Linked DNA regions of Homo sapiens: all the other regions are linked to region 1. Evidence: fine-mapped expression QTL. A gene starts in region 1. Each other region holds a variant in brackets. All regions are shown on one strand. Distances are between the middles of the regions.

Region 1 (2,765 bases):
TTCTTAGGCTTCAGAAAAGCCTAATTAGGCAGGGAAAGGAATCTGGGCCTGGCACACCCAAGCTTAGACGTGGCAGGATCCTGAAACAATGTTTTTTTGAACCTTTGAGTCATATGCCACAGGCAAACCATAGCCGCGATATGCAGGTCCTTAAGTCAACAGGTCCTCTAACGAGATGGTGAGTGGTTGGTGCGTGGCAGTTGGATTTCTTCCCGCCACGGAAGAAAAGAACTCTTCTCCATTGATCAGGAAAGTGGGCCCAACTCTGGCCTGGAGAGCGCACCCGGAAAAGTGCAGAGTCGAAACAGAGAGAGAGGGGTGTCCGCGTCCCGGCCACAGAGCCCTTTCCAAACCACTCGGAAACCATTTAAATGGCTCGGCGGCCGCGGTTTGCAGCCTAGAACTGTTTGGGGTCCCCGGCTAGGAAAGTTGCCTGGCAAAGCCATGTCTTTCGCTGTCGCGGGATGTCCTCTCGGGCAGAGAGGCTGGAGGAGACAGGCAACCTGCTAGCCGGAGTGGAAGCGCGCCCGCCTCCCGCCGGGCCCTCCCTCTCAGGGTCCCCACGCTGCGACCCTCCCAAGGGCAAGTCCGGGGCCACCAGGTCTTTGGTCTCCGTCCAGCTCCTCAGGGGCCGCCCCATAGGGACTGGCGGGGGCACCGTGGGCGAGAGGGTGTGACCGGGCTCCCCCCCGAGGCGCCACCTGCCCCTTGGCCCAGGGCGCCCCTTTCGGGATCTCTCCAGGGGCAACCGACACACTGCTCTCGAGACCGTCTCCAACCGGCCACCTGGACCGTAGCCCTGTCCCCAACACGTGAACCCCTGCGGCCGTCCTCCCGCCTGCTCTAACGCAGCCCAGGGGTACCGCGTCTCCCTCCGCCTGCCGCCGGCTTACCTGGCGGGTGGGCAGGGCAGGGTGGCGGGAAGCGGCGGCCGGGCAGGCGCTGGACGTGGGCTAGGCGCCAGGTGCAGGTGGCGGCGGCTGCGACTCCGGTTGCTGTCGCCACAGTTGCGGCTCAGTAGAGCTCCTCCTCCGCCGCCGCCTCCTGCCTTCCCGCTGGGCCTCCCGCGTTGCCTGGAGAGGCAGAACCGAGGCTCGGCTTCCACTTGGAGTCTCCCAGGTGAGCTCCAGCCTGCGACGTCGGCAGGGGCGAGGCCCCACTTCCGCGCCTGCGCGCCAGCCTCCCGCCCCGCCCCAGCCCTACCTGAGCGCTCCAGGTGAGAACCTTGGATCGCGCGCGCAGGGTGGGGGCGCCGTCCGGGCCAAGCCTGGCTGTCGCGCGGCTTCTCTCTGAGTGGTCGGCGAGGCTGCTGCTCCGCGCAAGTTGTGGCTCCCGGCCCATCTACATTGGAGGAATCCTGCACTGACCTGGTGGCAGTGATCACCTTGTAGCCAGAACACAGTCTGCTGGGTCCTTGGGGAACCAGAAGTTCTAGATTTCCCCCACACGGTTCCTCCCTTCCTCCTCGGTTCGCCAAAATGAAGGGGTGCGCTGCCTCCGAGGACCACTTCGGGAGGGCAGCAACTGCTGGCTCATGTGGTTTCTTCGGGCAGGGTTCAGCAGCTTCTGTCACCAGTTAGGTTTCGTGAGCTTCCTTCCCGTGTAGTCTTGATTTCATCACTTGACTCACTTCAGCGCAGCTAGTGGTTTCCGTTTCTGTACGCGGGCGCTCTGGTAGGGGCGCCTCACGTCCAAAGGAGGAGTCTTCTTCCAAAGAAGAGCCTTTGGTATTTGGCAGAGCCTCGCCAATTTGGGGCGCACCTCCCCTTCCTGGGATGCTCTCAGAAGGCAAACCAATTCCCAGAAGAGAGGGAAAAACAGCCACAACAGAGAGAACCTTTGCTGTCCCTGTTTGGAAAGAGATTGGGATTTCCTGGAGAGGGCTTGCTTCTACTGCAGGTTTGTTTAAAAGCTCAACATCTATTCTGGAAGAGAACAACGCAGACTCCAGGAAGATGGTGGGTTTTGCTGTTTTTAAGACAAAAAAAAATTGTTAAACAGTATTTGTTCCATTTATGACACAACTTTCTGTTTCAGCCTTCCTTCTGCTGCTGCAACAAACATTGACACACCCAAAACCAGGACTTAAAATGGCCTTTATACCTTTCTATGAACTCATTTCTTTGGCCCTATCCCAAAGATATCTAGGGATATAAATAGAAAACTAGCTAAAAACTTTTTGGTGTCGTGTTTAATCACATGGTGGTAGGTTTTACTATGAAGTTTAGTTGTGGCCTTCCTCCTACATTTTGACATGCTCTTATGGTGCTTATTCACTGTTTTATTAGTGCTATGCGTGACCTAAAAATAAGGTTTAAAATACAGTTTAGTATAGTATCAACAAGTGTATCTTTAGTATTTGACTACTCTAAGACATTGGTTTTAGCATCCATAGTGCTATTTTATACTAGGACATCTATGAGTTAGGGTTTAAGACTTTAGTAAACTAGGTAGTTCTTTGCTTGTTTTACATGTCATGGTTATTTTGCGAGCACCAAGGAACCTCCATGTATTTGCAACATTTTAATATCAGTACCTACAAGCAATTGCCAAGCTCCCTTTCCCTCCAAAAACAAACAAACAAAAAAATAGTTCAGGAGATACTTGTGTGTATTGATATACTAACTTGGCAGTGTTTTTCCTTAGGTCCAGGTCCAGAACTGAAAATACTAACTACTGAAATTCTCTTCTCCTTCTCCTTCTTCTTCGTTGTGCCACTTTGTCGTTTACCCCTAACCAGAGGTTAATGTTAGTCTTTGGAAAAT
Region 2 (2,765 bases), 220 kb before region 1:
AAAAAAAAAAAAATGGCTGCCTTTTGTTTACTTCCTTGTACATTAGCATGGGTGACATGATCAAATATATTAACTAGGATGTACATATCTTAAGAACCCAGAAGTATACTATAAGCCCTTTTCTTTTAATGCCCCAAAGTTTTGCAGCTTTAGCATAGCTCTAATGCTGTGCTAAAAATGAACATGAACATTTTGGGACAAATGCATTAAAATGGTGGTATCTAAAACATATATGAATATTTCTTTCAATGTTAAGAAAAACCCATCAAAAGGTATTTATTTAAGTCATAAACATTTATTTAAGTCATAAACATTCTAGATCAATGCTAACCCTACAAATAATATCATAAAGAAAGGTATTAACTCATTGTATTTAAAAGCTAAGCTACTTAACCATACTTACCTATTCTGGTTTTAAATTATTTTTAAAACTTTCAATTGACACACAAAAAATTTTGAGTTATAATATTTTTTGCCCCAAAAGAATTTCTTACTAATGGAAGGCTTAAGCAAATATACATATATATGTATATTCACTTTTTAATTACTGAATTATTTATAAGTGCCGTTAAGTTACTATATATCTAACTACTCAGAAAATTTATTTTCTCATCTGTATTTATAGTGCTTCTGACTTTTCCTTCTGTGTGTGTTCTTTGTTGCACTTCGCATGTATTTGTCATAAGATTTTCACTGAGACTTAAAAGTAACAAGCTTTCAAACATCATTTTAATTTAGACAGTCATTAAAGAGATAAGAAATCGATGTTTTAAAATAAGTTCCAATAACTAAATAGTTCTGTATTTGGAAATCCAAATTCCATTTTCAGTTTTTAAGAAATAATTTTATATATTTAAAAAAATTTTTAGAAAGGCAATCTGACTACACACACATACACACACATATTTGTATATATATTAATGTAATATTTGTGTGGTGGAAAATTCCTGTAAATGTTGGATAGTTTTCCCTGAAACTACTTGTTAACATTGAAATCAGATAAGGTAAATCATATGTTTTATTGAGGTAAGCTGTCTAAAATAAGTTACCGCAATTTTAAAAATTAATAAAAACCATATGTCCTTTAGAACTTAAATTGAAATCTGCATTGTTCCTTTAAGTCAGCTGTTCTAGGAATGTGTCATCTTTTGAAAAGATAAATTAATCATCTACTTCATCTATATACATTAATAAAAAAGATTCACCTTCTCATCTACTTTATCAAAAGTAATTAGTATATCTATTTTTATTCACATATAGTATCTTTTAGTGATTGAGATTTTAATTGAGGATATTTTGAAGGAAACAGCAATTATCTTTTTACAAAAAACAAAACACCAAGAAAAAGAAATGCCAGCAATCTAATGGTTAAAACATATTGCCAAATCATTCAGTAGCGCAAGGCTCTTTAATAACATTTGTACAAAAGTACTTTCAGAAAATATGAGATAGGAAATGGCTTTTTGCAAGTTCTCCTTCCTTAAATTATTATTCAACCTCTTATTAAAATAAAATCTAGTTAACTTCTTTTGGAGCTTGCTCAAACATTTTCTATAA[TA/T]AAAAAAAATCTTGTGAAGGGATTTCCATAAGTTGTGCTGCATTAATGACTTAGAGCAGCTTCCTTATCTGTTATTCCTTCCTCCTAGTAGACCTCAGATGATAAAAATATCCATAGACACAGTGAAGTCAGTGGCACGCCTGGCTCTCTCAGACAAAACTCCATGTGATCACATATAGGCAGCCTCAGTGAGGCTGATGCCGTGCAGCAAGCAGTAGGTAATGAGTCTTTGTGCAGAGTGAAGCTCTTGTTGCTGAACAATAAAGCATATGGTACAAGCAATAAAACACAGGGCTGGGAAATTTAAGAAGATTCCTCTGAACCAGGAAGAACTGTGTCTTCGGTGATGCTGACACATATGATAAAATGATCATTTATTTTGGATCCTAATGAATAAAGAGTGCAAGGACTAAGACTACAGTTATTTGAACAGGTTGGTGATTTTATAAATTACTCCAACACTTCCTTGTGTTTGACTGGATTTAAATTAGAATGGGCTGGTGTGTTTTGCCTTAAACAAAAACTTTGCAAGATATTTGTAGTGTATAATATTAAGGATGCACTTGAATTGACCCAATGCGATTAAATTGTCGATGTAGTCAGATGTGACAGAGAAATGTTGATATCATTATATTAAACTGAAAAGTTATTTAGTCTATTTTAAAAATTTATGGGTAAGAAATAAATTCATCCAATAATTTTTAATCTCCTGTGTATGCAGAAATAATATAAAAGAGAATACTACTGACAAATAGTTCACATAAAAAGCTTCAAAATTATTTTTCCAGTGTTAAAACAATCTGTATTGCAATAGTTTACATGTCTTATAAATTAGATAATATATCATTCAAAATTTGTTGATGTGTGTTAGTATACTGCAAAAGGAAGGTTTGGAATATTTAATTATTTGAATTAAAAAATTTAAAAACAAGGAAATTTTGAAATGTAAATAACACTATTAGAACAATGTATTTTATACTTTAGTAACACATATCTGTATTTATTTGTTGTGTGCTTTTAATTTTTCATGTTATATTTCTTTTGACACATGAAAAAGATTATTGCACAAAACCTTTTATTTTATAAATATTATTCATTGATATTTAGAGAAAAACAAATTTGCTTAATTTTTAAGAGAAGAGATTATTTGATGATGCATATTTTCATTGGCTTACCATTTAGAAAGATTATGTGTCTTTATGTATAT
Region 3 (2,765 bases), 63 kb after region 1:
CTCTTTCCTCTAAGACCTCCCCAGAGAAGAGAGGTGAAAACTGAAGTTCACAGAAGGTGAGGAACTTGCCCAAGCTCTCAGAGCTCCTATGAGATGAAAACCCAGGTGAGACCAGGCACAGTGGCTCATGAGGGTAATCCGAGAACTGGGAGGCTGAGATGGGAGGACTGTTGGAGCCCAGGAGTTCAAGATCAGCCTGGGCAACATAGTGAGACTCTATCTCTTCAAGCAATAAAAAAATTAGCTGGGTGTGGTGGGTGCACGCCTGTAGTCCCAGCTACTTGTGGGGCTGAGGTATGGGGATCACTTGAGCCTGGGAGGTCGAGGCTGCAGTGAGCCATGATCACGCCACTGCACCCCACCCTGGGTGACAGAGCAAGACCCTGTCTAAAACAAACAAACAAACAAACAAAAAACAAATCCCAGTCAAGTTAGTATGACTTTAAAGCCAGTGCTTCTCATTATAACATTCTATAGGCTGGGGCCAGAATTTGTGGCTACAGTCTAATAAGTCAAAGGTAAAACAGAGATACCAGCAATCCCTATGCACTCTCCTAATTGAATTTCCTAATTGCAGACTAGAAATCAGGTTCTCTGATTTCTAGGAAGTGGGCCTCCGATTATATCAGACCCTGTAGTCAGCAGAATAATGCCCGCATCCCCACTGAAGATGTCCACATCCTAATCCCTAAAACCTGTGAATGTGTTAACTTACATGGCAAAAGGAACTTTGCAGATGTGATTAAGTTAGGGATCTTGAGCATATGCTGCATTATCCATGTAGGCCCAAATATAATCACAAGGGTCCTTATTAGGGAGAGAGGGAGGCAGGAAAGTTAGAGAAGGAAACATGATGACAGAAGTAGAGGTCACAGTGATGTGATCATGAGACAAAGAATGCAGGCAGGCCTTAGAAGCCAGAAAAGTCAAGGAACAGAGCCTTCCCTACAGCTTGCAGAAGGAAGGGAGCTCTGTTGCCCCTTGGTCTTAGCTCTAAGACCCATTTTGAACATCTGACCTCCAGAAGTGTAAGAAAATAAATTTGTGATGTTTGAAGCCTCAAGGTTTGTGGTAATTTTTTATAGCAGCAATAGGAAAGTAAAAGACCCCTAAAGCAGTGTTTCAGCCCTGGCATTATGGCATCACCCATGTGGCTCTGAGATGTATTGGATCCCTAACAGAAAACAGGTAGGACCACCAGAACAATTTAATGAAGACTTCTCAGTTGTATTATATTTTTAAAAATTTAAAATGAACTTGTATATGTGGAAGGATTGATGATCTGTACTGACTCCAGATGGTTATGTTCTCCTGAT[G/A]ACAGATGGAAGTCCAGGAGGCGGGGCCATCTACAGGAAAGCAGGAGAGAAATGATTGATATAGGAAGCCAGTACAATCCAGGAACTCTTTATACAAGCACAATTTTTACTTTTCTGATTCTCCGGTAGTATTTTTTGAATTATGGAAGGAGATGAACATTCCTATTTTTTTAATATGGAACTAGCTGTACTGTTGTTTCTCTTTCCTTGCTGTGCTAGAAGAGTCTGGAGTTTAAGCTCTTCTTGTATTTGAGCAAAAGTTAATGTTTTTAAATTCTTTTTGTTGATTAGACATTTGGGTCTGATGGATCACTAAGGTTTATTATAAAAAAGTTTGAAGTTCAAGGATATTTCTTCTTTTTTACATTAGTTGTAAGGAAAAGGACAAAATGCCTTGGAGAGAAGCCAGAACAAGAGAATTTGGAGCATCAACAAAATATGTTGAACATAAACAAGAGAGTAGAGTTTCACTCTAGGCAAGAAAGTGGTTCTCCCAGGGGGATGAACTAGAAAAAGGGAGAGGAAAGTATCATGTGTATATGAGTAGGAAGATGAAGGAAACAGGGAAGGGGGAGGTAGTTATAGTTAAGCAGATCGGATCTTAAGCAACTTTGCCAATGATATTCTTACCCCAAGTGTATGCCAGCAAGATATGGTTCTACTGCTGGTGACCTCATAGAAGCAGAGTCATCACTGGAGAAAGACATAGCTCTCATCCTGATGGGCATCTCCTGCCCCTGAGGCCTCAGTTAGCTGCACTTGCCTTCTGCATCTCCTGGGGATTTCACTCCATCAGTTAGCATCTTGTTTACTGCCTTCCCTAAAGAAGTGATATGTATTAATATTAGTCTGTTATAACATCGCTATAAAGATACCAAAGACTGGGTAATTTATAGTGAAAAGAGGTTTAATTCACTGAAAGTTCTACATGGCCAGGGGGCCTTCAAAATTTACAATAATGGTGGAAGGCAAAGGGTAAGCAAGCTACCTCCTTCACAAGGCAGCAGGAGAGACAGCAAGAAAGCAGGGGAAATGCCAGACACTTATCAAACAACCAGATATTGTGAGAACTCCCTCACTATCACAAGAACAGCCTGGGAGAAACCACCCCATGATTCAATCACCTCCCAACAGGTCCCTCCCTTGATATGTGGGGATTATAATTTGAGATGAGATTTGGGTGGGGACACAGAGCCAAACCATATCATGATGCCTATCCATTTCTTTGAATTTTGTTTGATTCCTGACTGACTTATTCTTACCTCACAATGCCCCAGGATATATGTGAGCCCAAGAAAATGGGATTAAAGTCAGAGAGACTTAGTAGCGTGGCCTAATGAAAAATCCTTGGGGCTAACTGGAGCCAAACTGATTTGATACCTTCCCAGCATCTCTCCATCTTTTACATGAGCTGGGACCATGGTTAATGGCTCTTTTTATATAATAATT

Direction of the effects. Positions count from the first base shown, and alleles are read on the strand shown. Sizes are in standard deviations (SD) of each study's normalised expression. Not every link is listed here.
For the expression in subcutaneous fat of the gene that starts at base 1,126 in region 1, allele G in region 3 goes with a lower level than allele A (moderate effect, 0.58 SD a copy in GTEx).

Evidence for each region. PIP is the estimated chance that this variant, and not a neighbour inherited with it, causes the effect.
Region 2: its variant is fine-mapped to the expression of GALNT3 in whole blood (TOPMed, PIP 0.97).
Region 3: its variant is fine-mapped to the expression of GALNT3 in subcutaneous fat (GTEx, PIP above 0.99). The same link has a PIP of 0.9 or more in cerebellar hemisphere, cerebellum, prefrontal cortex, sun-exposed skin and tibial nerve.

What each region holds. Positions count from the first base shown.
Region 1 is chr2:165,793,122-165,795,886 of GRCh38, forward strand. It overlaps GALNT3 (polypeptide N-acetylgalactosaminyltransferase 3), which reads right to left and starts at 1,126. Exons shown (of 11, transcript NM_004482.4): 1 at 894-1,126. LOC124906086 reads left to right here and starts at 465. Exons shown (of 6, transcript XM_047446887.1): 1 at 465-671; 2 at 798-1,216; 3 at 1,679-1,958. The coding sequence starts at 465. RefSeq lists enhancers at 1-782, 783-1,688 and silencers at 759-848, 919-1,068.
Region 2 is chr2:165,570,597-165,573,361 of GRCh38, forward strand. The region is part of intron 3 of CSRNP3 (cysteine and serine rich nuclear protein 3); the gene reads left to right. Among named protein-coding and RNA genes, the nearest start is that of CSRNP3, 100 kb to the left of the region's middle. The variant TA/T (reference allele first, on the strand shown) is at 1,558.
Region 3 is chr2:165,856,269-165,859,033 of GRCh38, forward strand. It overlaps LOC100506124 (a long non-coding RNA gene), which reads right to left. Exons shown (of 4, transcript NR_045375.2): 3 at 1,947-2,136; 4 at 1,207-1,346. Among named protein-coding and RNA genes, the nearest start is that of GALNT3, 63 kb to the left of the region's middle. The variant G/A (reference allele first, on the strand shown) is at 1,317.